Regions from separate parts of the Homo sapiens genome. Here regions 1, 3 and 4 are each linked to region 2. Evidence: fine-mapped expression QTL. A gene starts in region 2. Each other region holds a variant in brackets. All regions are shown on one strand. Distances are between the middles of the regions. Region 1 overlaps ANKDD1A (ankyrin repeat and death domain containing 1A). Region 2 holds the start of ANKDD1A (ankyrin repeat and death domain containing 1A). Region 3 has its middle 27 kb from the start of ANKDD1A. Region 4 overlaps ANKDD1A (ankyrin repeat and death domain containing 1A).

The links.
Region 1: its variant is fine-mapped to the expression of ANKDD1A in whole blood (TOPMed, PIP above 0.99). The same link has a PIP of 0.9 or more in blood mononuclear cells.
Region 3: its variant is fine-mapped to the expression of ANKDD1A in whole blood (INTERVAL, PIP above 0.99).
Region 4: its variant is fine-mapped to the expression of ANKDD1A in NK cells (Gilchrist 2021, PIP 0.94).

Annotation. Positions count from the first base shown.
Region 1 is chr15:64,929,254-64,936,564 of GRCh38, forward strand. It overlaps ANKDD1A (ankyrin repeat and death domain containing 1A), which reads left to right. Exons shown (of 15, transcript NM_182703.6): 7 at 1,569-1,667; 8 at 2,234-2,332; 9 at 4,883-4,981. Among named protein-coding and RNA genes, the nearest start is that of ANKDD1A, 21 kb to the left of the region's middle. RefSeq lists a silencer at 1,518-1,812 and enhancers at 1,561-1,660, 1,900-2,777. The variant A/T (reference allele first, on the strand shown) is at 4,857.
Region 2 is chr15:64,907,872-64,914,866 of GRCh38, forward strand. ANKDD1A (ankyrin repeat and death domain containing 1A) reads left to right here and starts at 4,031. Exons shown (of 15, transcript NM_182703.6): 1 at 4,031-4,093. The coding sequence starts at 4,060. RefSeq lists silencers at 3,259-3,553, 3,627-3,676, 3,877-4,056 and an enhancer at 4,243-4,786.
Region 3 is chr15:64,882,324-64,887,323 of GRCh38, forward strand. No RefSeq gene overlaps it. Among named protein-coding and RNA genes, the nearest start is that of ANKDD1A, 27 kb to the right of the region's middle. RefSeq lists an enhancer at 1,735-1,954. The variant T/A (reference allele first, on the strand shown) is at 2,704.
Region 4 is chr15:64,948,901-64,957,002 of GRCh38, forward strand. ANKDD1A (ankyrin repeat and death domain containing 1A) reads left to right here. Exons shown (of 15, transcript NM_182703.6): 14 at 941-1,072. Among named protein-coding and RNA genes, the nearest start is that of SPG21, 37 kb to the right of the region's middle. The variant C/A (reference allele first, on the strand shown) is at 2,947.

The DNA.
Region 1 (7,311 bases), 22 kb after region 2:
GCCTCAACTTCCCATGCTCAAGCAATCCTCCTGCCTCAGTCTTTCCAGTATCTGGAACTACAGGCACGCACCACCACATCTGGCTAATTTTTGTATCTTTTGTAGAGACGGAGTCTTACTATATTGCCCAGGCTGGAATTCCTGGGCTCAAGCTATCTGCCCACCTCAGCCTCCCAAAGTGCTGGGATTACAGGTGTGAGGTACCATGCCCAGCAGGGAGATCCCTTTAAAGGACAACCCCACGCAGGCTGACCTCAGCAGGGGCCACTTCTGATACAAAGTACGTTGCGCCCTCTGCCCTGCCCCATGCAGCTGCTTCTCTTGGCTATGTCACTGTCACCTTTAGACTTTCCAAGTGCAAAGCAACTACCAGTCCTCTGGCCCTCAAGTCCCAGGGACACATGTCAAGCTCTCCACATGATCACCTGAAGACCCTCCTACATTATTGACTCATTGAACAAATATCTACTGAGTGTTGGCCATGTACCCCCGGCCCTATTCTAGGCACTTAAGGAAACTTCAGAGAACAAAATAGATGCCCCTGTGGTGCTTATGTTCCAGCAAGAAGGGTCAGACACATGGAACCAACCCAAATGCCCATCAATGATAGACTGGATAAAGAAAATGTGGCACATACACACCATGGAATACTATGCAGCCATAAAAAGGAATGAGATCATGTCCTTTGCAGGGACATGGATGAAGCCAGGAACCATCATCCTCAGCAAACTAACACAGGAACAGAAAACCAAACACTGCATGGTCTCCCTCATAAGTGGGAGCTGAACAATGAGAACCACATGGACACAGGGAGGGGGACAACACACACCAGGGCCTGTTGAAGGGGGGCAAAGTTAGGGAGAGCATCAGGGCAAATAGCTAATGCATGCAGTGCTTAATACCTAGGTGACGGGTTGATGGGTGCAGCAAACCACCAATGCACACGTTTACCGATGTAACAAACCTGCACATTCTGCACACGTATCCCAGAACTTAAAGTAAAATTAAAAAAAAAAAAAAAGTCAGACAATAAATACTAAGCACTCAGCCAGTGACAGAGTGTGTTAGCAGGTGATCTGTGCAGTGGGGAAAGGAAAAGCAGGACCCAAAAATAGTCTCAGGAGGACAGAGGTGGGGGTTGTAGTTTCAGTGTGGCCCGGGCAGGCCATGCTACTCAATGAGAAACTAACGTCTCACACAAAGACTTGAGGGAGGCAGGTGACTGAGCCAAGCAGCTGCCTGGAACAGCCTGAGCGCAGGGGAGAGTTGCTGGGGCCTTGAGCCGTGAGAGGAGATGGATCTGGGGGACATGAGGAGGGACCGGCTTCAGATGGGCACGTGGAAAGTAGAATTGGATTTGTTTAATTTTTAAGCAATGTGCCTGCCTTGAAGTATAAGGAAAGAAAGACCAGGGCTTGGCCCTTGAATCTGCCCCTGGTTATAGTTTTTGGCCCAGTTGTCAGGAGCAGGGTGGCACTGACCCAGTGTGCATGGCTGCAGCTCATCACAGGTCTGTGATTCTGGGACTCTCTGGTCTGCTGGCCTCTCAGGAGCCCTTTTTCCTGCAGGAGGGGAACACTGCCCTTCATCTGGCTGCTGGTCGGGGCCATATGGCTGTGCTGCAGCGACTTGTGGACATCGGGCTGGACCTGGAGGAGCAGAATGCGGTGAGTCACCGCCTGGGGATGGCGAGATGCATGACCCTTGCTTGCTCTCTGCCTTCGAGGAACCCCCACCAGTCCATGGTGAAGTCTAAAGCCAGAAGGCTGAGGGCATGATCTCGAACTGAGAGCCCACCAGGGAAAGACAAGCAGCAGCACTGAACTCCAGGCTTAATGGTAGTACTTGGCATGATGCCTCACCCCAGAAGTGAGACAGAAAGTGTGTGTTCAAAGAAGGGAGACGTCACCGTGGACAGGATGGTGAGGGAGGGCTTGCTGGAGGAGAAGGAAATAGAGGGGAGGGGCTGAGACAGCCTGACCGGGGCAGAACATGAGCAGAGATGTGGAGCCAGGAGTGACTATGCCATGTGTGTGCTCCATAAAGTGAGGACTTCAGGGGTGGGGCTCATGGAATCACAAACAAGAAAGTTCATTGTTCCCAGGGGCAGGGCAGTGGAGAGCTCAAGGGGTCCTGGGGCCAAGGCACAAGGGGCATCCTCTCACCGTGGGATTGGGGGTCACTTGGGGGTGGGCCTCCCCACCATCCTCATTGCTCTTCTTGTGTGTTGCAGGAAGGTCTGACTGCCCTGCATTCGGCTGCTGGAGGATCCCACCCTGACTGTGTGCAGCTCCTCCTCAGGGCTGGGAGCACCGTGAATGCCCTCACCCAGGTAGCCAGGCCCTCCCAAGACTGCGGTCGGCTCTTGGCTGCTGAGCCATAGCCATGTCGGCAGTAACGGCCACAGGGATTCCTGAACCCTGAGTGAATAGAGGCTTCGAGGCAGCAGACAAGGTTCTGATCTTGGCTTCTCCACTGCTGAGCCCTGTGACCTGGAGCAAGTTACTTAACCTCTCTGAGCCTTGTTTCCCAACTATAAAGTGCAGTGACATTTACTTTTTTACATTGTTGTGAGGATTAAATACCTAACACAGTGCCCAGGACATAATAGGGCCCAACACCTCAATACCTGTTAGTGTTTTTTTGTTTTAATTTTTTTGAGATGGGTCTTACTCTGTCGCCCAGGCTGAAGTGCAATGGTGCGATCTTGGCTCACTGTAACCTCCGCCTCCTGGGTTCAAGCAGTTTTCCTGACTCAGCCTCCCAAGAGGCTGGGACTACAGGTGTGTGCCACTACCCCCGGCTCATTTTTGTATTTTTTGGGTAGAGACAGGGTTTCACCATGTTGGCCAGGCTGGTCTTGAACTCCTGACCTCAAGTGATCCACCTGCCTCAGCCTTCCAAAGTGTTGGGATTATAGGCGGGATAGCCATTGCACCTGGCCCTGTTAGTGTCTTCTATTTGTTGAGCTCTTGATCGTTCACAAAGCCCCTTCATAACTGTTACCCCAGAAAAATTCCACCCATTTTGCAGATGAGAAAACTGGAGCTTTGAGGGCACTTTCTCAGGGTCACAAGCTAGTACGAGGCAAAGCTGAGTCTCAAAAGCCTTTTCCCCTGACTCCAGAGCTCCCACCCACTGATGAAGCTTTTCCCCTGACAGAGCTGGGGCTTGAGGTGTGACCCTGGATGAACCTCTTCTCTCTCTCCCCGTTGTACTCATCAGTTCTGCCAGTAAAAATTCTCCTCTATGACCTGGAAAGCGGGGTTGTGGCCTTTCTTTAGGTAGTGAGTTGGTGTTTTGGGTTTGCTTTTTATTTTTGAATCAGTGACAAATAACCTTTCTGGCTGGTTGAATGGCTTCAGGTTCTGGAATTCTTGCTTTGTTCTAAATGTCAATAGTATAGCAAAAATATTAATAATAAATAATACAATATAAATAATAATAGCAAAAACACACAGGCAGTTCAAAAACAGAGAATTAAAATGTTATGCTAAAAAATATTTATTTCCCCACTGCTTAATTTGACTGGCTTTGAAAAGAAAAGTAGGCTGGGCAAGGTGGCTCATGCCTGTAACACAGCACTTTGGGAGGCCAAAGCTGGAATATTGCTTGAGCCCAGGAGTTTGAGGCTGCAGTGAGCTATGATTGCACCACTGTACTCCAGCCTGGGTGACAGATTGAGACCCTGTCTCAAGAAAAAAAAAAAAAGACTGGGAAGGTTGCACCCAGCTGGGTGGCCATTGGGTGGGGGGCTGGAGCTGCTCATCACGCCAGGCCTTTTGCTCCAACCTCAGCTTGTGGTTTCTGGCAGAGGCCACGTTCCATTTCAACACTCCCACCCCTCTCAGAATGTCATGCCACAGGGTCTCGGAGGAGGTGCCAAGCCCACGGTGACTGCATTTCCCACTGGGAGATGGACTGAGTCCCACACACCCCAGGTACTCGCTCAGCTGGGACTTTAGCAGGGTGGCTAGCTAGTCCTGGTTTGCCCCATACTGTCCTGATTTTAAAATGGAAAGTCCCACATCTCAAGAACTCCTCAATCCTGGGCAAACTGAGACAGTGGTGGGTCACCCTAGTGGGGCCTGCCTGGTGTGTGCCTTGTGCAAGGTGATCACTGGGCCAGGTTGGGCACTGACTGAAAGAGAGCCCTTTGAGGCCCACCAAGATCAAGCCTCCATTCTAGCCCAGCCAGGATCCTGTTTGGAGGCACCAAGACCAGCTTGTGCTGGGCAGTGCATGCTGGGTGGAGTTTGCTCTGTATTGGCAAATCTTATTTGTCTTCCTCTTTAAAAACCACCTCCTGGCCAGGTGCGGTGGCTCACGCCTGTAATCCCAGCACTTTGGGAGGCTGAGACGGGTGGATCACAAGATCAGGAGTTCAAGACCAGCCTGGCCAACATGGTGAAACCCCGTCTCTACTAAAAATACAAAAATTAGCTGGGCGTAGTGGCAGGCACCTGTAATCCCAGCTACTCGGGAGGCTGAGGCAGGAGAATTACTTCAACCTGGGAGGTGGAGGTTGCAGTGAGCCGAGATTGTGCCATGTACTCCAGCTTGGGTGACAGAGTGAGACTCTGTCTCGGGAAAAAAAAAAGTCTATCATCTGCATGTCTTTACCAGCCATAGAATTGGGCAGGCTTTGGTCTGAATTCTTGAGTTTGTGATAGGAGGTGAGGAAAAGACTGAGACCATAATGAGTTCCTTTTACTGGTCATGAGACCTGGGAAAGTCATTGATTTTTCCAGCCTCAGTTAAATGGGGATAATACTCCCAGGGGTGTTGTGACACTCAAATGGAAAAATGAATCTCGAAGAGCTTTGCAAACCTCAGTAGGAGGGGTCCTTGTGATA[A/T]CGCATTGATGCCTGTTTCCTTCTAGAAAAACCTAAGCTGCCTTCACTATGCAGCCCTCAGTGGCTCGGAGGATGTGTCTCGGGTCCTCATCCACGCAGGAGGCTGCGCCAACGTGGTTGATCATGTAAGTATGGTGCGAGTGTTGAAGGGGGTCTCCATTGCAAAGCCTTCCATGAGCACACTGATGAAGCACAGGGAGAAACAGGCACATCGGATCCTTGGGGTTGGGGTGCGGACCAGGAGTAGGGGAGCCGGCAGCACTTAGGAGAGTGAAATACTGTTGTAGCTGTAATAGGATTAGAAACCCAGCTTGCTTGCAATTCCTCTGAACTGAATTATTAGCTCCTGTTCTCTGCTCGTTTATGCATTGGGGCTTTTTTTTTTCTTTTCTTTTTTTTTTTTTTTTTGAGACAGAGTCTTGCTCTGTTGCCCAGGCTGGAGTGCAGTGTTGCAATCTCGGCTCACTGCAGCCTCTGCCTCCCAGGTTCAAGCAATTCTCCTGCCTCAGCCTCCTGAATAGCTGGAACTAGAGGCACACACCACCATGCCCAGCTAATTTTTTTTTTTTTTTTTTGTATTTTTGGTAGAAAAATACTGGGGTTTCACCATGTTGGCCAGGCTGGTCTTGAACCCCTGACTCAAGTGATTCGCCAGCCTCAGGCTCCCAAAGTGCTGGGATTACAGGCATGAGTCACTGTGCCAAGCCTAGGCATTGGGTTTTACTATTAATCTTTTATGTTGCCTATCTGTCCACTTAATTGTTAATCTTTTTACTGTTATACATTTGGTCCACACACAGGAACTGTATAATCTTTTGGTTAAAACACAGACTTTGGGAGTGCAGTGGTTCACACCTGTAATCTCAGCACTATGGGAGGCCGAGGCTGGAGTATTGCTTGATCTCAGGACTTCAAGACCAGCCTGGGTAACCCAGGGAGATCCATCTCTACAGAATTTTTTTTGAAAAACTGGCTGGTCATGGTGGTGTACACATGTAGTCCTAGCTACTTGGGAGGCTGAGGCTAAAGGACTGCTTGAGCCCAGGAAGTTGAGGCCACAGTGAGCCATGATCACACCACTGCACTCCAGCCTGGGCAAGAGTGAGACTCTGTCTCAAAAAAAAAAAAAAAAAAAATTGGGTTGGGCATGGTGGCGTGAGCCTGTAATCCCAGCACTTTGGGAGGCCAAGGTGAGCAGATTGCTTGAGGCTAGGAGTTCGAGACCAGCCTGGGCAACATGGCAAAACCCCATCTCTACAAAAATATAGAAAATTAGCCAGGTGTGGCCGGGTACAGTGGCTCACACCTGGAATCCCAGCACTTTGGGAGGCCGAGGCGGGCGGATCACGAGGTCAGGAGATCGAGACCATCCTGGATAACATGGTGAAACCCCATCTCTACTAAAAATACAAAAAATTAGCCGGGCTTTGTGTCAGGCGCCTGTAGTCCCAGCTACTCAGGAGGCTGAGGCAGGAGAATGGCATGAACCCGGGAGGCAGAGCTTGCAGTGAGCCGAGATCGCACCACTGCACTCCAGCCTGGGCGACAGAGCAAGACTCCGCCTCAAAAAAAAAAGAAAAGAAAATTACTCAGGCATGGTGGTGTATCCCTGTAATCCCAGCTACTTGGGAGGCTGAAGCACGAGAATCACTTGAACCCAGGAGGCAGAAGTTGCAGTGAGCCAAGATCGCTCCACTGCACTCCAGCCTGGGCAACAGAGTGAGACTGTCTCAAAAAGAAAAAAAAAAGTAGTGGGAGTTTCAAATGGTGACTATCTTTCTAGAAGGCAAGTTGACAATAACTATCAAGCTGAATTAAATAATTAAAATTTAAAAACAAGAGGCTTTGGTGTTAGGCCTGGCTTTGTATGCTGGTACTACAAACTGAATAATCCTGGGCAAGCTGCTTTGACCTATTTGGGCCTGTTTCCTTACCTATAAGTACTATTATTATTATTCCCATTACATAAACAGGGAAACATCTATGGTTTAAATCAGAAAGGGGTCATTTCTTACAGCTAAAACAAGTACTATATTTAAACTTATTATAAAAACAACATTACACAATTCATTGGAATATAGAGAAGAAAGGCATCCTTGATTCCAAAGCCCTAGAAAAGCAAGGACTTTTTTTTAATGCCCTCCCATTTTCCCCCATGTAAATAGTATCACCTCCAGCTAGAAAGAATTCAGGCTAAATGCTTACTTGTTTCTGCCCATCAAGACACCAGAATCCTGATGCCAGCCCAGTGGTCAAACTAAGAAGTTTTCCTGTTACCTTCATTTAGTATGTTGTTTTCCTTTTCATTTTAGCTGTTTTTGCTGCCTATTTATTTATTTATTTAATTGTGTCACTTTTATTTGTTGTATTTGCTTTGTTTTTAATACCAAAAGTAACTTGCTGGTAGTAACAGTGTCAAAAGACACATTCATAAAAAGTGAAGGCGTTGCCAGGT
Region 2 (6,995 bases):
GAGCCACCGCTCCCAGCCCCTTCTTTGTATTTTAAAATTTCTTTAGTAATGAACAAACATTAATAAGACAAGAAATAAAAAGCTGTTTTAAAATTTCTCTTAAGCAAAAGGCCAACAATCATTTAAAAAATGAGTGGGATAAGAACAGATTGTTCTCAGGAAAAAAAAGAAAAGAAAACGGCTCTTAAACATAGAAACAGATAACCAACTTTTCTTGTAATGATAGAAATGCAAACTAAGATTATAATGAATTACTATTTCTTACTTATCAGATTGGGAAAAATCCAAGTTTTACAGAATGTTCTCCTTGGAAACAGGCACCCTCATACATTGGTAATGGAAATGCAAAATATTTCTGGACCTTATGGAGGAGAATTTGGCAATAGCTAGCAAAGTTATATGTGCATTTACCCTTTGACCAAGCAATCCCATTTATAAGAATAGATCCCATAGATGCACTGGTAAAAATACCAACTGATGCATGCATAAGGTTGGTCATTGTAACTCTATTGTAATAACAAAAGTCTGGAAACAGGGCCAATGTCCATCAACAGGGAGTGGTTGAATAAGCCACCCAATGGAGGACTCTGAGGCTGTACAAAGGATGCAGGAAGATCTCAACAGACTACTGCGGAGAGATCTCTGTAGTAGATTGTTCCCAGAATAAAGCCAGAAGAATGTTCAGAACGGGCAAATCTATGGAGAAAGAAAGTAGATTTGTAGTTGCCTAGGGCTGTGTGTGGAGGGTTGGGGAGGGTAAACTGCAAGGGGGGGTGATAGCTAAAGCATATGGGCTTTCTTTTCTGGGGTGATGAAAATATTTAGTGGTGATAGTTATACAACTCTGAACGATACTGTACTAAAAACCATTGAATTATACACTTAAATGGGTGAATTTTAAGGGGCAGGGCAAAGTAAGAAGATGATATATAGTATGCTACTGCAGTAAAGGGAGAATATATGATTAAATTAAACAATATAAGGGTAAGCATCAACAACACAAATGTTATTTTGTCAGTCAGGATGCAGTGAAGGAAGCAGAATCATGTTGAGGTTATGGGTTTAGGGTACTGGTCCCCAACCTTTTGGCACTAGGGTCCAGTTTTGTGGCAGACAATTTTTTACAGGACTTGGGTGGTGGGGGGATGGTTTTGGGATAAAATTGTTCCCCTTCGGATGATCAGGCATTAGTTAGATTCTCATAAGAAGTGTGCAACCTAGGTTGGGCATGGTGGCTCACGCCTGTAATCCCAGTACTTTGGGAGGCCGAGGCAGGTGGATCACTTGAGGTCAGGAGTTTGAGACCAGCCTTACCAACATGGTGAAACCCCATCTCTACTAAAAAAATACAAAATTAGCCGGGCATGGTGGCGCAAACCTATAATCCCAGCTACATGGGAGGCTGAGGCAGGAGAATTGCTTGAACCCGGGAGGCAGAGATTGCAGTGAGCCATTGCACTCCAGCCTGGGCAACAAGAGCAAAACTCCATCTCAAAAAAAAAAAAAAGAAGTGTGCAACCTAGATTCCTCACATGCACAGTTCACAATAGGGTTCACCCTTCTATGAGAATCTAATGCCACCACTGATCTTTCAGGATGCGGAGCTCAGGTGGTAATGCTCGCTCTCCTGCTGCTCACCTCCTGCTGTGTGGCCCAGTTCCTAACAGGCCATAGACCAGTACTAGTCTGAAGCCTGGGGGTTGGAGACCCCTGGGATTAGGGATCTGTGATAGTAATTTGCCTTACACAGTTGCGGAAGGACCAGAAGGGGAGTTGGGGATCAGAGGAGTCCTTAGTCAGTCATCTGAGAAACCAAGTATGTCCAGCTGCTAAAATGGAACCACAAGGGAAAGCTCCTGGGGAGGTCTATGGGTGGTACTAATGCCCTGGGTCTGCAGCCAAGTCCGCGATGGCCTGGGGCCACTGTTGGTCAGCAGGCTCAGCAGCTGGGAAGAAAAGCTGGATGTGGAGTGAAGGAGAGTGACAGCAGGCTGGAAGCCAGTGGTGCCCTCTTCATCCATCACCACAGCTGACTATGACAACCTTCAGAGACTTAACTTTGAAACATGTAAATACTTTACATAATTGTAAAGCAAAATTAACATTTAAAAATATCAAAAAACAAAAGCAAAACAAAATAAATAAACCATGCATGTTGAGTTGGTGGCATAACCACATAAAGAACTATTCCAAGTGACTAAAACAGTAACGTGACACTATGCCCCTAGTGGGATGTACATGTGACAAAAGCTTTACAAAAAACATTTAAACTGTTTTCAGGAATAATATCTTTGGCTAGGCGTGGTGGCCAAGCACTTTGGGAGACCTAGGTGGGTAGATCACCTGAGGTCAGGAGTTCGAGGCCAGCCTGGCCAACATGGTGAAACCCCCGTCTCTACTAAAAATACAAAAATCAGCCGCGTGTGGTGGCACACACCTGTAGTCCCAGCTACTTGGGAGGTTTAGGCATGAGAATCGCTTGAACCTGGGAGGCAGAGGTTGCAGTGAGCTGAGATTACGCTACTGCACTCCAGCTTGGGCAACACAGTGAGACTCTGTCTTAAAAAAAAAACAAAAACAAAAAGGGGGGGGTGCGGCGCAGTGGCTCACACCTGTAATCCCAACACTTTGGGAGGCCAAGGTAGGTGGATCACCTGAGGTCAGGAGTTCAACACCAGCCTGACCAACATAGTGAAACCCCATCTCTACTAAAAATACAAAATTATCCAGGTGTGGGGGCGAGTGCCTGTAATCCTAGCTACATGGGAGGCTGAGGCAGGAGAACTGCTTGAACCCAGGAGGCAGAGGTTGCAGTGAGCCGAGATCATACCACTGTACTCCAGCCTGGGCGAAAGAGTGAGACTCTGTCTCAGAAAAAAAAAAATCATATCTTTGATTATTATGTTGGAATTGTTATTTTGAGACCATTTTGAGGGGTTGGCTCAGGGCTCATTAATTGTTAGCTGTTATCATTATGTTATTTTTCAAAGGCCATTCCAAATACCTCCTTCTTCAGGAAGCCTTCTTGAACTATATTCTAAGGACTAATGACTGAAAGATGCTCTTCCTCCTTTGATCCCCAAAGTAGTAGTAACTACACCTATCATGGCTTTGCTGGCTTCTTGCCTTGGGATAGAGATGCCTGAGACCCCATTATCCCTAAATTCAAAGAAGCTGTAAATGCCTTTAAGGCAAAAAGGACATGGACATCCCCCAAGGGTCTGAAGTGCAACCCATTCTGGTGTATTTAATGTGTATCTTTTTGTTTCTATGTGTCTTTGCAAGTCTGTGTTGTTTGATGTAAATGCATTTGTAATATTTTTATTGATATTGTTTCCTAGGTCTTATTTGGTTTGGTTATTTACTTTTTCTGCCTAGCACTAGGTGTTTAAATCCATATTGCCACGAATACAGCGGGTCCCTTGCTTTGAGTGCTGCACAGTTTATCCATCTGCTCTTACAAGAAAGGGCGCTTAGATTGTCTCCAACTCCCAGCAACCACAGCAACACAGCAACCAACATCCTCCTACATGTCCCTTTATGGGCCTGATAAATCTTTCTGAACACTGATAAATCCGACCATCTCTTCATATGCTTGCAGACCTGCTGAGGTTGTGGTCCCTTAAACGCCAGCTCACATCTTTGGGGTTTGACTTTCTGCGCCTGAGGCGGCGGGCCCAAGGCTCAGCCCTCCTCCCCGAGTCCCGAGAGGCGCGAGGAGGATGAGCCTGCCAGATGCCTTGTGCGCATCTATCTCCAGGGCCGGGGAGGCTGGGCGAACTCCCGGGGAGGAGACTGGGTCAGGGACACCTGCGGAACTCGGCGTGGCCCCGACCCGCCGGCCTCGGGCGCGGAGGGGTGGGCAGGTTAAGAGAGCAGGAGGAGGGACCTGCGTCCTGGTCCGGGACTGGGGTGGCCGGGGCAGCTGCGCTCCTAGCAGGCGGGGCGTGGAGTCTGGAGGAGCGACCGCCCCGTCCTCTCGGCTCCCCGGGCCCCGCCCCGGCGGACGCGCGCCTCGCGCCCGGGCACCAGCGCGCGCAGGGGCTGCGGAGCGGCAGGATGCAGGAGGAGCTGGCGTGGGAGACCGACGGCCGTGAGTCTGCCTGGAGGAGGGAGGGGGGCGGGCCGAGGCCGAGAGGACCCCCGCATCCGTTTGGGGAGTGCCAGGGGTGAGGTTGGCGCCCTCCGAACGGCCACCTCCGTGTGGGGCGTCTGTGTGGCTCCGAGCGGAATGGTTACCGGTCCGCGCACTGGGCCGAGGGGACCTTGCCAGTGCGTCTGGGACTCGGGGACCACACCCGCCAGGTGAGCGGGGAGCAGCGGCTGAGAGGTTAGCTACAAATAATAAAGGTAATAGCGATCCTTGACTGCGTGCTGTACTTTGTGTGCCAGGCCTTGACCCAGGAGAGGCACGTCATTTGATCTTCGCTGCGGCCATATGGGTAGGACATTATGTTATCTTCATTTCGCAGATGAGAAACTGAGGCACAGGGTGTTCAAATGAGTTGTTCAAGGTCACACAGCCATTGAGTGGTAGAAGTGCTGAAGGGCCCAGCTCACCCGGAATGCTGGGGCTGGATAGCGAGTGGAGACCGCATCAGATGGGGCACGCACTCAGAGGAGAGGAGCCTGACTGGCCACAGGTGGAATGAGGGCACCTCCGAACCTCCCTCAAGGAGTGCGCCCAGTGCCAGGGCCTCTAGGCCGGGCAGCAGCGTCTGTGTGGGCATCAGCTGGCCTGGGGCAGCTTTGGCTGCACCGTCTGGGAGAGGGGAGAGAAAGATTGTGTCGGTGTCTGCACTGTGAGTCCTTGATCCTGCAGCCCTGGCTGAATCCTGACAGCTGAATCCCGGGGCTTTCCCTCAAAAGCGCATAGTGCAGCTCACTGGATTCCTTTGAGACCTATAGTGTCCAAAATGCTGGCACACTGCATCTACTCAGCTGAGGGATGTGTTGGGGGTGGGAATGCTCAATCAAGATTAGGTACATGGTTCTGCCTGGGGCGGAGGATCACTTGAGTGGGCCTGCGAAGAATGTGTACCAATGGAGCATTGGGGTGTGTGGCAGAGAATTCTGGACAAAGACCCAGCATGGGCAAAGGCTCAGGTAGCTCAGTGGGTATTGGATGTGGCCAGAAAGAGGGTGCCGGATGGGAGGTGGATGGAAGAGATGAGACTGGACTTGATTTCATTCTAACTTAACCTTCTCTGGCCTGACCCTATGCAGTGTCTGCTGGCTTCCCATTGGAACTCCTGGCTGTTTGCCAATACAAACCAGGCCAATCCCCCTAAGCTGCACATAAGATAGAGGGTGCCAGACAGGAAGGGACCTATACAGATCTCTTTCTTCACCCTCCCCCAGTTTTACAATGGAAGAAACAGACCTACAAGGGGGATGTGACTAGCCCAGGATCCTGCTGCTGGAAAGTGGCAGGGAAGGTACTAGAACCCAGGCCTCTGTAAGCTCACATCTGAAGTGGCAGCTCTCTTTGGCTACCAGAATTTGACCCTTTGCCTTGGAGGAATAATAGTGATGATGATGGTGGTGGTGGTGGCGGTGTGGTCATTATGTGCCAGACACTGTGCCAGGGGGTTTTCATATCTCATTTCTAATCATGATATTAACCTTGTAGGGAAGCTCGCACTCCTGTTTTGCAGATGAGGAAACTGCCTAACACAGCTAGGAAGTGGTTAAGCCAGAGTTGAACCCAGGACTGTGTGATTGCCCCCCAGGGTAGCAACTCTGAGATCCACAGGTTGTATCCATGAGGCCCCAGAAAGCTCAAGATCCTCTTTCTCATCTGGAGAAGACTGTGTGGAATTTATCTAGAAAAACAAACTGCATGGCAGGCCTGTCTCTCACCTCAGTGCATCTTAGCCTTCCCTACCAAGACACTCGTCACCTGTCCCTGGATACACAAAGGGGCTGGGTTCAGACATTCATACTGGACCAAACATGCAGGCTATGGGGTCACTTGCCCTGCAGTGACTATGGAAAGGGCCAGCAAATATTTGTCTCTGTGCTAGTATGTGTGAGCACTTTGGGAGAGGGGACAGGCATCTATTCGTCTGGGGATTGTTGGTGTCACTCATACAAGCAGAGATTTTTTTGTTTCTGTTTTCTTTTTTTTTTTTTGAGATGGAGTCTCGCTCTGTCACTAGGCTGGAGTGCACTGGCATGATCTCGGCTCACTGCAACCTCCAGCTCCCAGGTTGAAGCAATTCTCCTGCCTCAGCCTTCCGAGTAGCTGGGACTACAGGTGTGTGCCACCATGCCCAATTAATTTTTGTATCTTTAGTAGAGACGGGGTTTCACCATGTTGGCGAGGATGGTCTTGATCTCCTGACCTCGTGATCCATCCACCTCGGCCTCCCAAAGAGCTGGGATTACAGGTGTGAGCCACTGCACCCAGCCTGTTTTTGTTTTCTTTTTAGAGACAGGGTCTCACTCTGTTGCCCAGGCTGGAGTGCAGAGGTGCAATTATAGCTCATTGGCAGCCTCAAACTCCTGGGCTCAAGCAAGCCTCTTGCCTTAGCTTCTTGAGTAGCCGGGACTACAGGCATGTGCCACCACACCTGGCTAATTTTTAAAAAAACTTTTTTGTAGAGATGGAGGTTTTGCTTTTTAGCCCAGGCTGGTCTTGAACTCCTGGCTTCAAGCCATCCTCCTGCCTTGGCCTCCCAAAGTGCTGGGATTGCACGCATGAGCCACCATGCCTGGCTCAAAAGCAGAGTTTTGTGGGTTCCTCCTGTGCCCACCTTTGGGCCTGCTGTGAGCTGTGGGTGGATCAGGAAGGGTCAAGTGTGGCCAGGGCCTCCAAAATACTTGAAGTCTAGCCATGGAGACTAGACATCCTCACAATCAAGAGCCGTCAGGATGATGGCAGCATGGGGCTCCGGTGGGGATCATCTGGACCTGTGTCCTCCTGGCTCAGAGACTAATGCAGTCTGACCCTGAGCCCACAGGTGTGCGTGACAGGGGTTGGCAGGGGGAGC
Region 3 (5,000 bases), 27 kb before region 2:
TACCAGGCATCTGGCCCTGACACAGCATGAGCTCTGGAATGATGATTGCGGGTACACTGCCCTCCCTCCCTTCGTTTAGCCACTGTGCAGAGTGAACACCCACAGGTCTCAGCATGTGACTCTCTTCTGCAAGAGTCAGCCCAGTGGGGAGACAGACACTCCGGAAACCTAGATATGTGCTGGGCTGGGTGGCAGTGCCACAGCTGGGCACTTTACTCCCCAACATAAATGTAGGCATTTCTGTGTCTTGTGAGCCCATGAATCCTCATAAGACCCTGTTGAGTTGGGAATTACTGCAGAGCTGTAACAGACAGAAAACCTAGGCCCACAGACAGCCAGTGACCTCCCATGGGCACACAGTTTGGGTGTGGCAGAGCGCGGTATGGAATCCAAGCCTTCTGGTGCTAAACCCTGCAGGATTCTGGCAGGTCACACTCCAGGCTCCCAAGCCAAGCAAGCGTTTGAAAATGCCTTCCCATGTCCAGTCGCGGTGGCTCACACCTGTAATCCCAGCACTTTGGGAGGCCAAGATGGGTGGATCACTTGAGGTCAGGAGTTGGAGAACAGCCTGGCCAACATGGTGAAACCCCGTCTCTACTAAAAGTACAAAAAAAATGAGCTGGGCGTGGTGGCACGTGACTGTGATCCCAGCTACTCAGGAGGCTGAGGCATGAGAATTGCTTGAACCCAGGAGGCAGAGGTTGCAGTGAGCCGAGATCATGCCACTGCACTCCAGCCTAGGTGACAGAGTGAGACCCTATCTCAAAAAAAAAAAACAAAAAAAAAACGAAAATGCCCCTCTGTGAGCCACAGGCTCTGCCCCTGCAGTGGGCTATCTACCTGTCCTAGCTTGCTTTCTTCCTCAGAAACAGATGTTTCATCCTCCTACCATTCTCTTGACTGACTCCACAATTGTGGCTAAGACAAACTGGGTGAATCACATCTAAAGCAGAAGCAAGTCTGCATGAACCCCAACACTTCCCCAGTCAATTTCCTGTGTTAGGTTCAGAGGGGTCATTTCAAACTCTCAGCATGTTCAAGACGAGACTGCCTATAAGGCCACGTCTTGGGACATGGTTTAGGGGAGGAGGTAGGAATATGTGGCAGGGCCCTCTGGCTATACGGATCTCCCTATCTGCTGGAAACTCCACCACTAAAACCATTCCTTTGTATCATTTCCCCAGAGGGATCTTGATAATTGTGAAACGCCAAACAACTTGCCAGCCATGAGTCCCAAATCACAGCTATGAAAGTGCTTTACAGTTTATAAAGTGATTTCACAGCGAAAAATGGGTTTGCTCCTCATAACAACTATGAAAGTTAGGGCAGCAATTTAAATGTGTCCATGGAATAGATGAGGACACTGAGTGAGGCCCTGAGAGGCAGAGGAATTCCTCTGCCAATCAGAGCCCACACTTGAATACAGGTCTTTCTACTCCACATTGCATGTACCCCTGATAACTGGGAGTTGCCTTGGGAGCAGATGCTGATGGGACACAAAACAGGCAGATTTTGATAAGAAGGCAGATGATGAGGTGGAAAGGCTCTGAAGAAAGAGGTGGATGGCAGAGCTTGGCTAGAGGGGAGCAGGACTCCCCAGGGAATCGAGGATCTGGGCAGGGGAAAGGGTAGCCTGGAAGCAGGGAGAGGTGGAGGATGAGCTCTGGGAGCCAGAACCTGAATTCTGTTCCGGCCCTGTTCTGAAGCCTGAGGGGCTGGAGTGGACTTCTCCTCTAGGATCTGTCTGCCCTGTCTGCTCTGAGGACCTGCCAGCTCTCCTGGGAGGCGCTCAGGGCATCTTGTGAGCCTGTCAGCACTGACCTTGTCACGCGGCTCATGACTGCTCCTCATCCGACCTCAGATGAGTCAAGAGGGGAAGCAGGCGCAAAGGGCTTCCAGGGGATTCCCGGGATGCAGGCAGCTTGGGGCCCTAGGGGAAAGAGCCTGGGGCTCTTCAAGGCTGGGCTATGAAGCCACCCTCCTCCCAGGGTTGAGGGGCAGTCAAAATATCCCCAAACCTAATGTGATTTCTCACCTGCCAAGTGGCAGCAGTGTGGCATCGGGGCATAAAAGCTGCTAACAGTGGGGAAAGGCCTGGCCCAGTGCCAAGCAGGCTGTGGGCGTCCCTAGAAGAATGAGCAGCGCAACTACAGCAGGAGTCCCAGGCCCTGGGCAGAGAGACACCCCTTTATCGAGACCTACTACCTGCCAGGCACTTTATTTATTGGTAAATTTAATCAGATTTTGAAAACCACAAAATCTGGATACATTTGCATTGTGGTATTTGTTGTAATTGTTGGATATAATTACATATACATGCTATAAAATATAAGATAGAACTAGAACAAGAGTTCTTAATCTGGCATCTAAGGGAACCCGAAAGATCAAAGGATAGAGTTCAAGGAGTCTAAAAATTTGGAAGAGAAAAAATATATATCTTTATTTTCACTAATTTCTACCTGAATTTTAGCATTCTCTTCAACGATGAATGTAGGCAACAAACCACAGCAGTATTAGCAGGACTCGTGATGATGTCACTAGCAATTACAAATATTTTCAAATCATATAACGGTTTTTGAAGATATTTCAAAATATGGTTTATACTCATCACTATTTCAAAATTACAGCAGTTATTGGACCTATTATTAGCTCTTGATCTTCAGGCATTAATTAGGAAGCACTATCTAGTACTATGTCGAAAAA[T/A]TTTTTTTAATTGTTTGATGACTACATTTTAATACAACTGGTTTTCTTTGTAAGCCTATGCTAGTTTATTTTGTGCATTTCAGAACATTATTCTGAGAAGGGGTCTGCAAGTTTTTACCAGATGACAAAGGAGGCCATGGCACACACAAAAGAGGTTAAGAACCCCTGATCTAGGTCTTCCCTGCAGTATTTTAGGATATATCCACATTTTAAAAATGTGGATTTTGGCCGGGTGCGGTGGCTCACTCCTATAATCCCAGCACTTTGGGAGGCCAAAGCAGGTGGATCACTTTAGCCCAGGAGTTTCAGACCAGCCTGGGCAACATGGCAAAACCTCATCTCTCCAAAAATTATAAAAAATTAGCCAGGCATAGTGGCATGCACTTGTAGTCCCAGCTACTCAGGGGACTGGGGTTAGAGGATTGCCTTGAGCCCAGGAGGTTGAGGCTGCAGTGGGCCATGATTGTGCCACTGCACTCCAGTCTGCTGGGTGACATGAGACCCTGCCTCAAAAACAAAAAAATAACAAAAAAAAGCCGGGCACAGTGGCTCGTGCCTGTAATCCCAGCACTTTGGGAGGCTGAGGCGGGTGGATCACCTGAGGTCGGGAGTTCGAGACCAGCCTGGCCAACATTGTGAAACCCCATTTCTACTAAAAATACAAAAATTAGCCGAGCATTGTGGTGCATGCGCCTGTAGTCCCGGCTACTCGGGAGGCTGAGGCAGGAGAATTGCTTGAACAGGGGAGGTGGAGGTTGCAGTGAGCCAAGATTGCGCCACTGGACTCCAGCCTGGGTGTGACAGAGCAAGGCTCTGTCTCAAAAAAAAAAAAAAAAAAAAAAGATTTTGATTTTTTAAAGACAATTTTCCAGTCACATCAGAAAGTTGAGTGCTGATCTGATTATTTCACTTAATTGCATAAAATTCAACTCTGTGACATCCCTGGACAGTGAGCAACCCACAGCTCCTCAGTTGAAAAGTCTTCCCCCAGAAAAGGCATATACATTGTTTAACTTAAAAGCTGCATGTTGGCCGGGCGTGGTGCCTCACGACTGTAATCCCAGCACTTTGGGAGGGCGAGGCGGGTGGATCGCGAGGTCAGGAGTTTGAGACCAGCCTGGCCAACATGGTGAAACCCCGCCTCTACTAAAAATACAAAAATTAGCTGGGCATGGTGGCAGGTGCCTGTAATCCCAGCTACTGGGGAGGCTGAGACAGGAGAATCGCTTGAACCCTGGAGGTGGAGGTTGCAGTGAGCTGAGATTGTGCCATTGCACTCTAGCCTGGGGGACAAGAGTGAGACTTTGTCTCAAAAAAAAAAAATGCATGTTTTTCTTCATACTTATGTCTAATCATCATAATTAGACAATGTCGTAAGAAGAATAGTTAAAGGACTATTCTGGCCAAGGGCCTTTTGGCCAGAAAAAAGGCTGGCGGTAGAGGGCTGGGGGAGAGGACACAAGACAGCTATCTTGTTCTTATGAAGGGCGGCCCTTACATTCCTGTGTGCAGATCTGGAAGCCCGACAAGGACTCATGGTTTGAAATCAGGACTCCAGGCCAGGCGCGGTGGCTCACGCCTGTAATCCCAGCACTTTGGGAGGCCGAGGCAGGCGGATCACGAGGTCAGGAGATCAAGACCATCCTGGCTAACACAGTGAAACCCCATCTCTACTAAAAAATACAAAAAATTAGCCGGGTGTGGTGGCGGGCACCTGTAGTCCCCGCTACTGGGGAGGCTGAGGCAGGAGAATGGCATGAACCCAGGAGGCGGAGCTTGCAGTGAGCCGAGATCGCACCACTGCACTCCAGCCTGGGTGACAGAGCAAGACTCCGTCTCAAAAAAAAAAAAAAAAAAAAAAAGAAATCAGGACTCCAGGCGAATGTCCATATAGTTTCTCTTCTCTCTTTCAGCCACTTCTCCCGGGGCCTTGGGTCCCCCTGCTGGCTCCCCTCCCTTCTATGGAGATGTGCTCTGGGAGAAAGGCCATGAGAAAGAAGCTGGTGTTGAGGACAGAGTGGCTGACCCAAAGCGGAGTTGGTTGGGATGCTGGCCAGGGGACTGCCCACAGGTGTGGTTGAGAACCCATCACCATACCTCCTTGAGTTTCAGTCTCCCCAGCTGTAAAATGAGGACAATGATATCTGCTCTTAGTTGGCAGGCACTAAATGAGATGGTAAATGAGAAAATATTTGTGGTACAAGGTCACAAGGATCAAAAACTCCCTCACACTCAGGTATAGGTGACTGATAATCCTTCAAGGATAGCTTTTCGCAGTAGGCTAAGCCATGTAAATA
Region 4 (8,102 bases), 42 kb after region 2:
AGTTCAAAAGTAAACGCTGCTACGGATAAGAACTTTCATATATGATAAAGAAGCACTTGTACATTACAGTGGCGGGGGCAGAGATAGTTAATAAATGGTGTTGAGACTGCTGGGTCAAGCGGAAGTGCCACCACACCAAGGGCAGTACCGTGAGGACATGCCTGCTGAGGGCCCCAAGAGGGGCACGGAAGGTCAGAGGGGCGAATGGAGTGACCTGGACCTGATGGGCGTGGCCCAGCATCTGTCTGTTTCCACAGCACTGGAGAGCCAGCTGAATCACAGCCAGCTGAATAACATGTTAACCCCATGCCGTGTGGGCAATTATTTTCCAAACATGGTTGTATGTTGGAACCACCTGGGAAATTTTGAAACCGTTAAATGCCTAGGCTGCACCCAGTCCCAGGTACATGAGAATCTCTGGGGGTGACATGGGCCCTAGGTGTTTCCAAGGAGCAGCTGAGTCTGAGAACCACTGGTGCAGGGGAAAGCATGGCCAGCTCCATCTCTGACTAAGCTGTATTCTCATCTGTAAATTAGGACCACTATCATGCAAGACACAGATTATTTTGAGCAGCCAGAGAGGTGAAGTATACAATTTGTGCATCATGGTACCACAACGATGAAAGTCAATTCTTTCTCCATTCAGAGTGACACCAACAGAGTGCATAGTGGGTGTTCAGGAGAAGGCCTGGGGCTGGGGAGGTTCTAGAGACCAAGACACAAACCCTTCCCTCCCCATCTGAGAGGCTGCTCCTCCACTCCCCTTACCTATCTCCAGGCTGAGCTTGGCTGGAGCATGGAGAAGGGCCTTGGAGGCTTTTGGCCTCTTTCCCACCTGGGCATGTTCAGGAGGCGGTGCAGGGTGGCATAGACAGGCGCTCTGGTCAAGTGGCCCCATTGGCTCCTTCTCCCTCTCTCTCTCCTCCCTCACTGTTCTCAGGCACCAGGAGCTATCAGGAGCACGGCCACCGAATGCTGCTCATTTGGCTGCATGGCGTGGCCACGGCTGGTGAGAACCCCAGCAAAGCGCTGTTCGAGGGCCTCGTGGCCATTGGCAGGAGGGACCTGGCTGGTAAGAGCGTACTCTGCTGGGCTGCTTCTCAGGAGCTGGGTGGCCCCCACTGGAATGCAGCAGGGCCCTCCAAGGGCTGCTCAGACAAGAATGCTGTGATGCTGGCTCTAGGCCTTCCAGATTCCTACCCCTAGCCCTGCCCTCTTTTCCCTTGGGCAAACTACAGTGCCTCCTGGCCCTGGTTTCCCCATCTGTGCAATGAGGGTGTTGGCCCAAACTGAACCCTGTGACCTTCACAGCCCCGGAGCCAGTGATGCTGTCCATAATCTCTTCCTTACCAGCCCTCTATACCTTGACATTTTTTTTCCATTTTGGAATAAGCCTGGAACCACCTCCAGACTTTTTTCACAAACATTAAGACATAGGAGCCAAAACTGACTTAATATGAGTTGAACCAGTCAAATCTGGTCAAATAAACCTTCTGAGGTCATCACAACTTATTTGAGTATGCCAATCTCAAAAGCCTGATATGGGATTCAGTGTTCTGTGGAATCATCAGACAAGCAGGATAGAAGGTTCTAGTACTAATCCCTCATTAAAAACAAAATCAGCTCATGATGAAAAAGCCTTAAACGCTGTGATACCCACTGACGTGGTACATAATGGGGCAACCACAGAATGGGGCACTAGGCAGCCACTGATAGTTGTGAAGTCTCCATTAGATATGAGGCAACAAAGAAAACCACTCCTGACATATTTCTAGTATATTGCTGAGGGAAATGTTTCTAGCATATTATTGAGGGAAAAGAAAGGACCGCCCCCCCCCCCCCCCCCCCCCATAGCTGCTATAGGCAAGGTGGAAAAGCTAAGACTCATTTCAGGGTAGAGAGATTAGGGACGCTACCTTTCTTTCCCCAAAATGTTCTTAAATATAGTTGTTACATCTTTTAACACAAACTGTGGCATGCAATTAAAACATAAAACCAGTCCTGTGAGGCAGAGCTTAGGCAACAGAGGAAGTAAGATTCTTGTTTTTAACAGAAAATATCAGGAAGAAAGCAAACGCAGCCCCGAGTGCCCCCAGGAGGTGCACAGCCATGTAACCGGAGGGGCCAGACCTTCAGGCACGTGGGACCTCAGCGTGTGGAGCCACCTGAACAGAAGATGACCATCATTTAAGGGCTTTTTAAAAAATCACTGTTAACAGACCTCCAGGTGATTCTACTGAAATGCACAGTCATGCAGAGCCCAGGAGGCAAATGTTTGTACACTGATCTTTTTCATGAGGATGGGTCCAAGGGCCTGTAATCCCGTCCAACAGGTATGGTCCTTTTGAGCTCTTGGCACACTTTGTTTATTTCTTCTTCTTTTTCTTTTCTTCTTCTTCTTCTTCTCTTCTTCTTCTTTCTTCTTTCCTCTTTTTCTTTCTTCTTTCCTCTTCTTTCTTCTTCCTCTTTCTTCTTTCTTTTTCTTTTCTTCTTCCTCTTTTTTCTTTTTTCTTTTCTTCCTCTTTTCTTCTTTTTCTTTCTTCTTCCCTTTCTTTTCTTTTCTCTTTTTTCTTTTCTTCTTCCTCTTCTTTTCTTCTTCTTCCTCTTCCTTCTTCCTGTTTTCTTCTTCCTCTTCCCTCTTCTTTCTTCTCTTCTTTCTTTTTCTTTTCTTTCTTCTTCTTCTTCCTTTTCTTTCTTCTTTCTTCTTGTTCCTTATTCTTCTTCTCTTCTTTTCTTCTTCTATCTTCTTTCCTTCTATCTTCTTTTTCTTTCTTTCCTTCTTTCTTCTTCCTCTTCTTCTTCCTTATTTTCTTTTTCTTCCCTTTTCTTCTTTCCTCCTTCTTCCTCTTCTTCCTTCTTTCCTTTTCTTCTTCTTTCCTTTCTTCTTCCTTCTTTCTTTCCTCTTTTCTTCTTTCTTCCTCTTCTTCATCCTTCTTATTCTTTCTT[C/A]TTCTTTCTTCTTCCTCTTCTTTTTCTTTCTTCTTTCCTTCTTTCTTTTTCTTTTCTCTTCGTCCTCTTGTTCTTTCCTCTTCTTCCTTTCTTTTCTTCTTCTTCTTTCCTTCTGCTCTTCTTTCTTCTTCCTTCTTATTCTTCTTTCTTTTCTTTCTTCTTCCATCTTCTATCTTCTTTTTCTTCTTCTTTCCTCTTCTTTCTTCTTCTTAGTTCTTCCTTTCTTCTTCTTCCTTCTTTTCTTCCTCTTCTTCCTTCTTTTCTTCTTCTTTCTTCTCTTTCTTCTTCTTCCTTATTCTTCTTCCTCTTTCTTCATCTTTTTCTTTCTTCTTTCCTTCTACTTTTTCTTCTTCTTCTTTCCTCTTTCTTCTTCTTCCTTCTCCTCCTTTCTTCTTCTTATTCTTCTCCTTCTTCCTTCTCCTTCTTTTTCTTCTTCCTTCTCCTTCCTCTCCTCCTCCTTCGTTCTTTTTCTTTCTTCCTTCTTCCTTCTCCTTCTTCTTAGTTCTTCCTCCTTCTTCTTTCTTCTTCCTCTTTCCTTCTTTTCTTCTTCCTCCTTCTTCTTCTTCTCCTTCTTAGTTTTCTTCTCCTCCTCCTTTCTTCTTCTTAGTTCTTCTCCTTCTTCCTTCTCCTTCTTCTTCCTTCGTCACCGTCTTCTCCTTCTTCTTACTTTCTTCTTCCTTCGTCTTCTTCTCCTTCTCCTCCTCCTTCCTTCTCCTTCGTTCTTCTTCTCCTTCTTTTCTTCTTCTTCCTTCGTCTTCTTCTTCCTCCTCTCCTTCTTCGTCTTTTCTTTCTTCTTCTCCTTCTCCTTCTTCTTCCCCTTCTTCCTTCTTCTTCTTCCTCTCCTTTTTCTTCTTAGTTCTTCTCCTTTCTTCTTTCTTCTTCTCCTTCTTCCTCCTTCTTTCCTCTTCTCCTCCTCCTCCTTTCTTTTCTTCTTCCTTCTCCTTCTTCTTTTCTTCTCCTTCTCCTCCTTCTTCCTCCTCCTTCTTCCTTTCTTCTCCTTGTCTCTTCTCCTTCTTCTTTTCTTCTCTTTCTTCTTCTCCTTCTTCCTTCTCCTTCCTTCTCTTCTTCTCCTTCTTCTTAGTTCTTCTTCCTCTTCTTCCTTCTCTTTCTTCCTCTTCTTCTTTTCTTCTTGTCTCTCCTTCTTCTCCTTCTTAGTTCTTTCTTCTCCTTGTTCTTCTCCTCCTTCTTCCTTTCTTCTTTCCTCTCTTTTTTCTTCCTCTTTCCTTCTTTCTTCTTCTTCCTTCTTATACTTTCTTTTCTTTCTTCCGCTTTCTACTTTCTTCTTCCTTTTTTCTTCCTTTTTCTCCTTTCTTCTTTCCTTCTTTTCTTCTTTTTCTTCTTCCTCTTCTTATTCTTTCTTCTCCTTCTTTCTTGTTCCTTATTCTTCTTTCTTCTTTCCTCCTCTTTCTTCTTCTTAGTTCTTCCTCTTCTTTCCTTCTTCCTTCTTTCTTCTTCTTTTACTTTTTTCTTTCTTCTTTCCTTCTTATTCTTCCTCTCCTTCTTCTTAGTTCTTCTTTCTTCTCCTTCTTTTCCTTTCTTCTTCTTAGTTCTCCTTTTCTTCTCCTCCTCCTCCCTTCTTCTTCCTCCTCCTTCCTTTTCTTCTTTCTTCTCTCCTTCTTCTTCTTCCTCTTCCTTCTCCTTCTTCTTTAGTTCTTCCTCCTCTTCCTTCTCCTTCTTCCTTCTTCTCCTCTCCTTCTTCCTTCTCCTTCTTTCTTCCTCCTTCTTCTTAGTTCTTCTTCTTCCTTCTCCTTTTCTTCTTTCTTCTCTCCTTCTTCTTCTTCTTCCTTCTTCTTCCTCTTCCTTCTCCTTCTTTTCTTTCTTCTCCTTCTTTTCTTCTCCTTCTCCCTTCTTCTTTCTTCTTCTCCTTGTTCTTCTCCTTCTTCTCCTCCTTCTTCTTTCCTCTTTTCTTCGTTCTTCTTCCTCTTCCCTCTTTTCTTTCTTCTGCTTTCTTCTTCCTTTTTTTCTTCTTCCTTATTCTTTTCTTCTTTCCTCTTCTTTTCTTCTTTCCTCTTCTTCCTCTTTCTTCTTCATTCTTTCTTCTTCCTCTTTTCTTTCTTCCCTCTTCTTTCTTCTCTTTTTCTTTTTTCTTTTCTTCCTCTTCTTCTATTGTTTCTTTTTTTCTTCTTTCTTCCTCTATCTTCTTCCTTTCTTTCCTTTCTTCTTCCTTCTTTCCTCTTCTTTTCTTTCTTCTTCCTCTTCTTCTTTTCTCCTTCTTCTTTCTTCTTCCTCTTTTCTTCTTCTTTCTCCTCCCTCTTTTCTTCTTCCTTTCTTTTCTCCTTTCTTCTTCCTCTTTCTTCTTGTTCCTTATTATTCTTTCTTCTTTCTTTTCTTCTTCTTCTCCTTCTTTCTTGTTCCTTATTCTTTTCTTCTTCTTCTTCTTCCTCTCCTTCGTCTTCTTAGTTCTTTCTTCTTCTCCTTCTTTTCCTTTCTTCTTCCTTCTTAGTTCTCCTTTTCTTCTCCTTCTCTTCCTTCTTAGTTCTTCCTTCTTCTTCCTCCTCTCCTTCTTCTCTTCTTCTCCTTCTTCTTCCTTTTCTTTTCTTCTTCTTTCTTCTTCCTTCCTCTTCTTCCTCCTCTCCTCCTTCGTTCGTCGTCTTCTCCTTCTTCTTCTTCCCTCTTCTCCTTCTTCCTCTTTTTCTTCTTCCTTCTCCTTCTTCTTCCTTCTTCTCCTCTTTCTTCTCCTTCTTCCTCCTTCTCCTTCTTCTTTTCTTCTTCCTTCTCCTTGTTCTCCTTCTTCCTTATTCTTCCTTCTTCTCCTTCTTCCTCCTCCTTCCTCTTTTCTTCTTCCTTTTCTTCTTCCTTCTTCTTCTCCTTCTTTCTTCTTGTCTCTTCTTCTTCTCTCCTTCTCCTTGTTCTTCTCCTTCTTCTTCTCCTTCTCCTCCTCCTTCTTCTTCCTTCTCCTTCTTCTTTCTTTTTGTTCTTCTTTCTTCTTCTCCTTCTTCCTTCTCCTTAGTTGTTCTTCTTCCTTGTTCTTCTCCTTCTTTTTGTTGTTCTTTCTTCTTCCTTCTTCTTCTTTCTTCTCCTTTTCTTCTTCCTTCTCCTCCTCCTTCTTCCTTCTTCTCTTGTCTCTTCTCTCTCCTTCTTCTCCTTCTTCTTGTCTCTTCTTCTCTCTCCTTCTTCTTCTCCTTGTTCTTCTCCTGCTTCTCCTCTTCCTCTTTCCTTCTTCTTCCACTTCTTCTTCTTCCTCTTCTTCTTCTTTCTTTCTTTCTTCTTCTTTTCTCTTTTTTTTGATATGGAGTCTTACTCTGTTGCCAGGCTGGAGTGCAGTGGCGCAATCTTGGCTCACTGCAACCTCCACCTCCCAGGTTCACGCCATTCTCCTGCCTCAGCCTCCTGAGTAGCTGGGACTACAGGTGCCTGCCACCACACCCAGCTAATGTTTTGTATTTTCAGTAGAGACGGGGTTTCACTGTGTTAGCCAGGATGGTCTTGATCTCCTGACCTCGTGATCTTCCCCAGGGATGGGGTGTTCCATCTTCTGCCCTGTCCGGCAGAGTAGCTGCTTGCCACCTGAGGCTGTCATGCACCTGAAATGTTGGCTAGAGGGACTGAGAAGCTGAAATTTCTTATTTCTCATTATTTGAAATTGCAGGCACCCATAGCAAGTGGCATCCATGGTGCTTGGCTTTGAGGTGCCAGGCAAGCACAGCTTGTTCTGGGGCTTGGCTGTACCAGCAGGGGGATGTGTTTCTGGGGAATTGTGGCTCTGGAAGCTTCACGGTTTCCCAGAATGTGGAAAATATATCTGTGCAGGATAGAAATCCTGCCCAGAGGCTGTTTCTGTCTCATTTGAGCTCTCCTTCATGTGGCAGAGCTGGCTGTGGCGTTTAGGAGCCTACATTTTAGAAAAGCTTACCTCAAAGTTCTGCATTGAGCCTGAGACTGGAAAGGAGATAAAATAAAACAGCTGACAGGAGCTTTGGTAGTCACACATGCCTGATGGGGTGCACAGGGCCACAGTCTCTGAAAGGCAATTTGGCATTGTCTGTCCACAATATACTTTTATCCATTGGTCCAGCAATCCTACTCTAGGAATTTTTCCTACATATAAACCTGTATGCATACAAAATGATAGACATACAAGGTTATTACTCTGAAAAAGCAAAAGATTGGAAACAAACCAAGTGACTGGCTACAGGGGACTGGTGAAATAGAGTATGTTCCATCCACACAGTGGAATTCTGTTCAGCAGTGAAAAAAGGATGAGAGTGCTTTCCAAGTGTTGTTATGGAAAGAGCTCCAGGATAAATTAAGTGGAAAAAAACCCCAAGATACAGGTACATTAAACCGAAGGAAATTGGTTCAGAGGATAGCTGCACCATTTTTAGAGAAAAAGCTTCCTTTCTCTCTTCACCTTTTGCAGGTGATGTATTTTTTTCTTTGGATTCCTTTTTTTTTTCTTTTTTTTTGAAACAGTTTAGCTTGGCCGGGCGCAGTGGCTCATGCCTGTAATCCCAGCACTTTGGGAGGGCAAGGCGGGCAGATCACGAGGTCAGGAGATCGAGACCATCCTGGCTAACACAGTGAAACCCTGTCTCTACTAAAAATACAAAAAATTAGCCAGGCATGGTGGCGGGCACCTGTAGTCAGTCGCAGCTACCTGGGAGGCTGAGGTAGGAGAATGGCATGAACCCGGGAGACAGAGCTTGCAGTGAGCCGAGACTGTGCCACTGCACTCCAGCCTGGGCGACAGAGCAAGACTCTGTCTCAAAACAAACAAACAAAAAAAGAGACAGAGTTTCACGCTTGTTGCCCTGTCTGGAATGCAGTGGTGTGATCTTGGCTCACTGCAACCTCCGTCTCTTGGGTTCAAGCAATTCTCCTGCCTCAGTCTCCGGAGTAGCTGGGATTACAAGCACACACCATCATGCCCGGCTAATTTTTGTATTTTTAGTAGACAGGTTTCACCATGTTGGTGAGGCTGGTCTTGAACTCCTGACCTAAGGTGACCCATCCACCTCAGCCTCCCAAAGTGCTGGGACTACAGGCATGAGCCACGGAGCCCAGCCATTTTTGGATTCTTAAAACTTAAGAAAAATTCTAAAACATATTTGTGATCTATTACGTTATGATATATGATAGGGAAAAAATAGACAACTTTACCTACCACTAAGTTATATTTAATCAGCATTCTTTTGTTTCCTAACATATATGTTGCG